Linked DNA regions of Homo sapiens: region 2 is reported to be linked to region 1. The links are microRNA targets in miRTarBase. Many come from high-throughput screens and were not tested one by one. Region 1 holds a microRNA gene; the other region holds the end of a gene's coding sequence.

Region 1 (6,464 bases):
TAACACTGCATAAATTCCTGACCTGTCTAAAGTATTATAGAAAATGGAGGAATTTTTATAACCACAAATACAAAATTTTATCTTGTTTTCCAGGTCCCTCACCCTTTCCTGAGAAAAGTTAGAAGCCCAGAAAACTCAGGGCTATTCCCAGGTGCTTAGAAATGAAGAGTAACAATAGCTAATATATATTAAGTGCTTAAATGTGTTACCTCATTTAATCTTTATAATAATCATGTGTAAAATCATATGAGGTATGTACAGTTAATTCCATTTTACAGATGAGAAAACTGAGGCAGAGAGAGATTAAAGATTTTGCCCAACGCTGCAGTGAAAGTCCTCAAGCTGTGTTCCAACTCAGGCCTGTTTGACTCTGGAACCCCACACTCCTACCCACTGTCTAAGTGGTTATTATTATGGCCAGATTCCAACTTTTAAAACCTGGTGGGAAACAAAACCTTTGGCCTCTAATCAGACTGACATTTTCCTTTGTGCAGACCTTGGCTTTGGAGGCAGTCATGGGTAGTGAATAGTGGGTAGATAATGTTGAACAAAGAATATGGAATGAATAGATTTTGTCCTGGGGTCAGGGTCACCCCCAGGTGAGGGAGAAGTGGGAGACAGCGGCAGAACAGGGATGGGGTGCAGGGAGTTCTCGGCCCTCACCTCTGCCTCCTCCAGGGCTGACTGCAGCTCCAGCTTCTCCACCTCCAGCTGTTTGCGGACCTTCTCCAGCTCATGCACATTCTTTCCTCCTTCTCCTAGCTGCTCAGTAAGGTCCGAGATTTCCTCTGGGGACCAGAGGGCCAGAAAGCTCAAAGCCTATGTTCCCCCTGCCCCTGCATGGCCCTCCCTCCCACCAACTCATCTCTGGCCTCTTGGACCCCCAGCACACCCTGAAGGTTCTTGTTCTCCCGCTTGAAGGTCTCTAGGTGCTCCAGGGACTCCTCGTAGGCGTTCTTGAGCTTGAAGAGCTCTGTGCTGAGGGAGCGAGCCTCCTTCTGTGAGGACTCCAGCTCAGACTGCGACTCCTCATACTTCTGCTTCCACTCGGCCAGGATCTGCCCGGGGACAAGGCTCACTCTTCAGCCCCCCAGCCTTAGCTCCCCAGCCCTCCTGCTTCCCAGTGCCCCAGCCCCCAGCCTCAGCCGCATGTCCAAGATCTGTCCCTGGTCCCGAGCCTGGGCTTAGCCCTCCTCCTCCACCTCCAAGGAGGTTGCCTTTGGCCTCTCACTGAACCCCTCATGCCCCCTTGCCCTGCATGCTGGCTGCGGCCCCCGCCCATGGTCCACCTTGTCAAAGTTTCTCTGCTTCTTGTCCAGGGCTGCAGCAGCAGCATTGGAGCGCTCTACGTCCACCATCAAGTCCTCTATCTCATTCTGTAGCCGGTGCTTGGTCTTCTCCAGTGAGGAGCACTTGGCATTAACAGCCTCCACGGCCTCCTCGGCATCCTGCAGCCGCTGGGCCAGCTTCTTTCTGCCCAGGTGAGGGTGGAGGGTGTGTGTGTGACTCTACTGGGCAACACTGGAGCCTTGGGTGGACCTCCTTCCACCCCCTCCCTATATCTCCTTGAGACACCGTAAGTCCAGCCTAGCAGGAGCTGAGCCTGCTCATGCCTGGAACAGAGTCCGCCAGCACGGGCTGCCCAGGCGTCCTCCCTACCTGCAGTGGCATCTGGGTGTCAGTGCCCCCTGCCCTCACCCCCCACACAGGCTGATCGACGGTAGCTCCTCTGACCAACAAGCTTTTTGCTCGTCTTATACGTGAGCATCAGGTATAACCCGGGCCAAAAGCTCGCCCGTCACAGGAAGTGGGTCAGGGCCAGCCAGAGTTCACAGAGCAAAGAGTTCAGGCTTTCTTCCAAGCACTTCTGTTGCCCTCCGAGTTCCTCCTGTCTCTTCCACTTCCGTCTCATGACCACTTTGCCTGTCCCCACCCCAGGTCCTCTCGCCCCTTCCTCTCTGAGAGTCAGGTTAAGGGGGTATCTGGAGCTCACTTGGCCTCTTCGAGCTCCTCAGTCCGCTGAATGGCGTCCGTCTCATACTTGGTCCTCCACTGGGCCACCTCCGAGTTGGCCTTGGACAGGACGCGCTGCAGCTCGGCCTTGGCCTCTGTCTCCTCCTCGTACTGCTCCCGCAGCAGGTCGCAGTCATGCCGGGCCGACTGCAGTGCATGGGCCAGGGCGTTCTTCGCCTGGGGAGGGGGGGGGGCACCAGGAGGTGGGAGGGACTCCCTGTGCCCCATTCTCTAGATTCTCTTCTTATGTAGTACTTCAACCAAGCCCAGCCTTATTCACCATGTGGGCTGATGTGGCACCTCACTGTTTGAGGAGTTTCCCAGTCTGCTCACCCCATCCCCTTACGAATAAGAAAAGAGGCATTAAATGACGCTTAGCTGCAGGGCAGAACCTAGACTGGAGGGTCTTTCCCTTGCAGAGGACTCTTTCCAGCTCCAGGCTCCATTTCTGGCACTGAGATGAATTGCCCCAGGGCTGCCATCAAGCCTGCCCACCCTCCCCACTGGGCCTCACCTTGCCCTCCTCCTCCAGCTGCCTTTTGAGGTCCTCCATTTGCTGGGTATAAGAGAGCTTCCCCCGGGTCAGCTGCGAGATTAGCGCCTCCTTTTCCTCTAGCTGCCGGGCCAACTCTCCTGGAGGTGAAATGAGGGGCTTGTGGGCCATTTCACAAGTCATGTCCTGCCCTAGGCAGGGGGTTGGTTAGGGGCACCCACCATTCTCGGTCTGCAGCTTGGCTCGCTGGGTGGTGAAATCATTGAGGGAGCGTTGGGCCTCTTCTAGCTTCACGCGGTACTCATTGGCCTGGTCCTCCAGCGTCCGAGACACTTTCTCCAGGTTTGCCTTCAGGAAGCAAGACAGGAAGGGTGAGTGTGGGAGGGGCTGAGTCGACCAGAGGAAGGAAGAGAGGGTCAGAGATGGGGAATGCCAGAGGGCAGGAGGGGGACACAGAAGGTGTGGGAGGGCGCAGTCTGAAGAGAGACTTGAATTAAAGAAAGGAGGAACATGAAGAGATAGAGAGGGTGAGGAGAGCCAGAGAGGGGCAGGGGAGACAGGAAGAGAGACCAAAGGGTGATGAAGAGAATGAGAATGACAAGGGAGATGGCAGACAGAGAGAGAAGGCATGGGGGAGGCTCCGCTGTGCAGGGGAGAGGGCGAGGGGAGGCCGAGCAGAGCCTGCCTTGGCCTTGATGATCTGCTCCATGTTGGAGGTGACGTCATCCAGCTCCAGCTTGAACTCGCTCTTCTCCTTCTCCAGCTTCTGCTTCACCCGCTGCAGGTTGTCGATCTGCTCGCCCAGCTCGGCCACGCTGTCGGCGTGCTTCTTGCGCAGGGCCGCGGCAGTGGCCTCGTGCTGCAGCGTGGCCTCCTCCAGGTCCCGCCGCATCTTCTGGAACTCGGCCTCGCGCTTCTTGTTCATCTCGATCTGCACGGACGTGGCCCCGCCGGCCTCTTCCAGCCGCTCGCTGATCTCCTCCAGCTCCCGAGACAGGTCTGAGCGCAGCTTCTCCACCTTAGCCCTGGCGGTGCGCTCGGCCTCCAGCTCCTCCTCCAGCTCCTCGATGCGTGCCTGGGTCAGACACAAAGGGCTCAGACCCACCGCCTGGACCCCTCCACTGGAATCCCCCCGGCTCTGAAAAGCTACCAGGAACTTAGGTTCCTCTCAAGCAGTGGTTCTCAACTAGGGGCAATTTTGTGCCCCAGGGAACAGTTGGCAATGTCTGATTGTCATGTCTTGGTGGGGCTTGCTACTGGCATCTAGAGGGTAGGGGCCAGGGATGCTACTAAACATCCTATAATGCATAGGCCATCAATAGGAATTTGGCTGAAGCTCCCAAGGGCATCTCAGACCCAGTGTGAGCATCTGCAGCCCCAAATCCTGAGAACCTGTGGTTGAAGGGGGATCCTGGTATCCTGTGAGATCAAGAAGTTCAGAGTCCCCAGATTCACTAGGCTCTGTTGCGCTATTCATAAGACGGGAAAATGAGTGCTTGTATTTTACAAATATTTGTGACAACATGCCTCGAAACAATCAGATACCTTTGCAATTCTCCAAGTTAACCACAAAGTCCAATCAACCATATTCCTTGCTCTCCCAGGCTTGCTGTGTTTATGCCCAGGGCTGGGTTTCAACATGATTGCTCCCTTCCAGGCCAGGAAAGTGCTAGCAGGCTACTCTCCTCTTCACCTCATCTCCTTATCCTCTTTAAGTGCCCTTACCTCATTTTTTGGGCCTTAGCCTTGGTCTTGACTAAATTGGGAGAATATCGTATCTACCATTTTGATCTGTTGTCTGGCTAGCCAGGAGCAAAACGGGGGTTCAGTGGAAATCCCTTCACCTCGGGTTATGGACAGCTTTAATGGACTGTTCATGGATGGGTCCTACAAGCAGCAGAGAGGACCACCATGCCTCTGCTCCCAGGATGGAGAAGGTGGGACTTCTGAGCAAGATCTTGGGGATGAAGGAGGAGCCATAGCCTATTGCCGAGAGCTGATGAGACTAACAGGACTGTTATTCTGTGTCCAAGAGGCCAAACAAGTTGCCCAGACCTAGGGTAGAAGAACCTGAGGATGGCCCGATATTCTAGCTAAAACCCAGAAGGGGCATCCAAGAAGATGGGAGGGCAAATTACTAATGAAGGCGGGCCAGTCCCTGTGCAGCCCCAGAGGAGTGGAATTGTGTTCATACATTACTTGCAGCCTGGGCCATGGGCCTCAAGTGCAGAGGGGAGACTACCTCTTTCTACCAGCCACAGTCTGCCCCAAAGTGAGAGGACAAGGTCCCGCCCCAGTAGCCGAGTTCCTGTTGCCCTTGGGGTCACTATGTCCAGACCTGGCCATGTAGCTTCTGTAGCTCTATAATGGGGATGGCAGTGGACTTCCAGGTCTCTTCTGACAAACCCGATACTAAAAGCACATTAGGGTTTGAGGTTCATTAAAGCTAAGGGAGACTATGGCTGTTCACTAAATCTTGAGCTGCAGAGGAATGAGAAGGCCATTGAGAAGACAAAACAATACCTTCTTAGGCTAGTGGCTGGCTGACTTCTCTAAATTGGGCTATATTAATATGATACTTGTATAGAATTTCCTAGTTGACAAAATGGTTTCAAATACATTATCCCCTCTGGTCCTGTGTGGTAGGTATTGTCAGTCTCATTTTACAGGTGAGAAGAGAATCTGAGGATCAGGGAGGGTAAGTGACTTGCTCACAGTTGTTGGAATTGGCTCTTATCATGAGTGCCCTATGGGGACTCAGCCTGGGTTAGTGGCTGGGGTTAGTACCGGGAAGAATATGAACAGAGCAGCTCACAGGAAGGTGCTCCTTGAAGCCTTTTTTTTTTTTCACCCTGCGTTCAGAGGGCTGAACTACCAGAGGAAGGGTTAGAGGAGAATAGAGCTCTATCATTTGTCTTAGAGTAGAAAGTCCCTGAGGCAGAGCAGATCTCAGAAGGAGAAGCCCTTTAGTAGGTATGAGTCCCCCTTCTCAAACAGTTTTGCTAACGTAATGTATTCTTGCTCTATGGGGGAAGGCTAGTGTTCCTGAGCGCCTGTAAGTCAGGGATGGTTGGGTCTATGAGGCTGCCTGGAGTTCCAGATATTGTGTAGAACCCTAAGCAGCTGCTGCAGCCTCAGTTACCTCAGGGCTATTGAGCTCCCACTTTCATGCACTGGGAAAAAAAGTCACCTGGTTTTCCTTCAGTTTCTTCTGTAGTTGAAGGGCCAGCACCTGCTCATCCTCAATCTTACTGTTCTGCTGATTAATGTCAAACTCCTTCCTGCAGGAGAAGGGTGGGGGTGGGGGAGTGACAGGTAGCCTTCCTTCCTCTGGGGCTCATTCTCTTCTTGGCCTTAGTATGCCAGAATCGGCACCTCCCCCTCCCCTCGCCAGCCCAGAAAGTGGCGGAAGAGGGCTGTGATTGACCTTATTCCCAGCATACCCAAGGCAACTGTGGCCAGTGGAGGCGCAGCACCCTGCACTCTATCTACCAGGCCAGACACCTCCATTAGCCCCTCCTGGCCACCACAGTCTCCTACTTCTTAAGCTTTTCTTCCAGCTGCAGTTTATCATTTTCCAGGTCCATGATGCTCTCCTGGGTCAGCTTCAGGTCGCCCTCCAGTTTCCGCTTTGCTCGCTCCAGGTCCATGCGCACCTTCTTCTCTTGCTCTAGGGATCCCTCCAGCTGTTGGAGGGAAGAAAATAAGCAAAGTGTGGAAAACATGAAATCCATAGTGTATGCTCTTTTGCCTCCTTCTAAACTTGAAGTCCAGTGGGATTGGAAGTCAAACCAACAGAGAAATCCTGCAAGCACAAAGGATTCAGAGACCTACTGTAGTGAGGAACTACAGAGAGCAAAAAAGCTTCAGGGGCCATAGAAGTTAATTCTAGGGATCAGGACTTTCTGGGCCATTGGTGTTGCCTGCAAAATCTTGCTCTGAGAGCAGGAGCATGGTT
Region 2 (3,000 bases), not on the chromosome of region 1:
ATTACAGGTGTGAGCCACCACACCCGGCCTGAATTGTCTTTTATCTCAAGTTCCTTCATTGCTACTCAAAGTGTGCTCCACAACCCAGCACAGCCACATCATCGGAGAGCTTGCTAGAATGTTGGGCCCTATCTTAGACCTACTGAGTCAGACTCTGTATTTTAAGAAGGTGCCCACGTGACTCACGTCCACGCTAAAGTTTGAAAAATGCTGAGCTACTTCAACCTGGACTTTGTCACCTATAATAGAATTAAATCCCCTTCATCAGTTGCGACAACAGAAACCCCAACTCAAACTTCCCTAAATCATTAGGGTATCTTTGATTGGCCAGGTGCAATGGCCCACATCTGTAATTCTAGCACTTTGGGAGGCTGAAGCAGGGGCATCGCTTGAGGCCAGGAGTTTGAGAACAGCCCAAGTAACGTAGCAAGAGACCTCATCTTTACAAAAAGTTAAAAAAAAGAAAAGAAAAGAAAAGAAAAAGAAATTAGCTAGGTGGTAGCACGAGCCTATAGTCCTAGCTACTCAGGAGGCTGAGCTGGAGGATCCCTTGGGCCCAAGAGCTGGAAGGCTGCAGTGAGCTATGTTTGCACCACTGCACTCCAGCCTGGGCCAGAGCGAGACACTGTCTCTAACAAAAAAGGATATATTTTACTTAAGAAGCCCCATGGTAGAGCAGACTCGAGAGACTCAACTGAGCCAAGCAAAGATCCAGATTTTCTTCATCTCAGCTCTGTCATCCTCAGTGTGGACTTCATTATCACACCATACCAAGGTAATCATCAGCAGGTCTAGGCCTGATCATGTCTCTAGGCCTTCTTAGGAGTGATAGAATCTTTATTAGAAGCCTCCTAGGCCGGGCGCAGTGGCTTACGCTTGTGATCCCAGCACTTTAGGAGGCTGAGGCGAGCAGGTCACCTGAGGTCAGGAGTTTGAGACCAGCCTGGCCAACATGGTGAAACCCCGTCTCTACTAAAAATACAAAAATTTGCCAGGTGTGATGGCGCACACCTGTAATCCCAGCTACTCAGGTGACTGAGGTATGAAAATCACTTGAACCTGGGAGGTGGAGGTTGCAGTGAGCCGGGAACGTGCCATTGCATTCCAGCCTGGGTAACAGAGCAAGACTCAAAAAAAAAAAAAAAAAAGCTTCCTAGTTCTGAGCACAGTGGCTCACACCTGTAATCCCAGCACTTTGGGAGGCTGTGGCAGGAGGATTGCTTAAGCCGAGGAGTCCAAGACCAGCCTGAGTAACATAGCAAGACCCTGTTTCTACAAAAATATAAAAATAAAAAAGCCTCCCACCTCAACCTGAGCAGACTCGTTGACCAGGACTGGGTCACAGGCCCATTCTGTGGCCAGGACATTTGGCATGAGTCAGTCATTTGAAGGTAGAATCGACTCATGTCAAGAAGTTGCCACTGGGACGCACTGGTCCAGATGATGGAGGAGGAAGCTTGAGTTGCTATGGAGATGAATTCATTGTGGCTCCTCTATCCATCTGGCCCCAGGAGGCCTTGTCGGTAGAAAGAATGAAGGAACGCTGGACCATCTCAACTGTTCCCTGGATCTGGGACTCCCAACCAACCCCAGAAGCCAAGAACTCATCACGGAAACCAAAATAAGATTGTTTTATTCCAATCCTGAAGAACAATAGTCCAAACAATTCCCCTCCCCTGCTGGAGACTCTCCTGACCCCCAGTGCCCGCCCTCCCTCTCTCTTCAGAAGGCGATGGGGGTCGATGTCTCCAGGTCTTGGAGAAAAACCAAAACCACGCCCCTTGCATTTCGTCTCTACCCGTCTCCCACACATTTCTTTTGTCTCATCTCCGATTTTTCTTCCCCCTCCTACATCCCGTCCCTTCCTCTCCTGCTTCCCCCAGCTTTTCCTCATGTCTTCATTTCTGTCTCTTTGCTTGTCCTCTCTCCTCCATTTCCGGCTCCCCTTTCCATTTTTTCTCGCTTACCTCCTCTCCTTCATCTGTCTTCTGTACTTTCTCCCTTTCCCCTCTCCCCGCTGCACTCCCTAGACTGGCCAGTCTACTCTTGCCAGACACTCCCCATATGATCGCTTCCTCCCCCTCCCCCCAGCTCTGCCCCTTTCCTTCCTTCTGTCCCAGCCTGACCCTGTCTACACCTCTCATCACATGCTTCCTCTCCAGAGGGAAGCCCTCAGAATCCACCCTGCCCATCAACACCTTCCCAAGCTGTGGCTCCAGGACCTCAGAGACCACTTACAGCTTGCCCTTGGACCCAGAGAGGCAAACTGCCATGAGGAGGTCCCTGGATGACCCAGAAGGTGGCCAGGGGGACTGCAACGGTCTCCTTGGCCTCAGCCCTATTATCTTTGGGATCGAAGAATGCCCTCCGACCCTCCTGGTGGAGGGTGGTGGGCAGAGGCATGAAGGGTCAGGGCTCTGGGGCTCTCCCCCAGCAATCCCTGAGCAGGTCCATGTGGAATAAGGCAGCCCCAGTGAGGAGGCGCGCTGCAAAGAGGTGTCTGCAGGGCAGACGGCGGGCGGCGTGAATTGAGCAGCTGCAGCGTGTCAGGGCCCCATCCAGGAAGAAGTCCGAGGTGCCGTCCTTAAGGGCAAAGCCAGCTCCGGTCCAGTGGAAACCCCGGGTCCCATGCTGCCTAGCAAAGGCCAACTCCTCAGCCACCAGGTCTGCCAGCTCTGGCCCGCAGGCTGCTCGGAATTTGGCCAGGGGTTCCCAGTCCACCTCCTCCTCTCCCGGGGGTCGGCAAAGCCTCTTTGGTTCCCTGGGGCCATCTTCGCCTCCTTCCTGCAGGCCGTCACCTGCAGCCAGGTGTTCACTCCTCGCCGCTGCCCATTCTGGGCTGCCTTCCAATACAGTCCCCACCGGGGTGCCAGACACGACTCCATTCCCCAGCCCTAGACACCGCCCTCCTGCGTCTCCCCACTCCATCCCTCGTCCGGCTCGGCTCTTGGGGCCCACGGACCGGGCTCCCCCTCCATCTCCATTCTCCATGCCTGTGAC

Evidence for each region. Region 1 holds the annotated microRNA hsa-miR-208a-5p (GAGCUUUUGGCCCGGGUUAUAC, at 1,772-1,793, opposite strand). A microRNA usually pairs through its seed, bases 2 to 8, with sites in the 3' UTR of a target mRNA and lowers its output. Matches are read on the target gene's strand: a 7mer-m8 pairs with bases 2 to 8, a 7mer-A1 pairs with bases 2 to 7 and ends in A, and an 8mer does both.
Region 2: the mRNA of ZSWIM9 is a reported target of hsa-miR-208a-5p. Seed matches in the 3' UTR shown: 7mer-m8 at 1,882-1,888.

Annotation. Positions count from the first base shown.
Region 1 is chr14:23,386,866-23,393,329 of GRCh38, forward strand. It overlaps MIR208A (microRNA 208a), which reads right to left and starts at 1,801; the gene lies at 1,731-1,801. It overlaps MYH6 (myosin heavy chain 6), which reads right to left. Exons shown (of 39, transcript NM_002471.4): 24 at 6,047-6,192; 25 at 5,697-5,787; 26 at 3,192-3,581; 27 at 2,728-2,854; 28 at 2,528-2,646; 29 at 1,994-2,190; 30 at 1,290-1,473; 31 at 893-1,058; 32 at 664-788. RefSeq lists enhancers at 1-29, 2,079-2,682, 2,683-3,286.
Region 2 is chr19:48,196,237-48,199,236 of GRCh38, reverse strand. ZSWIM9 (zinc finger SWIM-type containing 9) reads right to left here. Exons shown (of 4, transcript NM_199341.4): 4 at 1,617-3,000. The coding sequence ends at 2,410. Among named protein-coding and RNA genes, the nearest start is that of ZSWIM9, 27 kb to the right of the region's middle. RefSeq lists an enhancer at 2,211-2,723.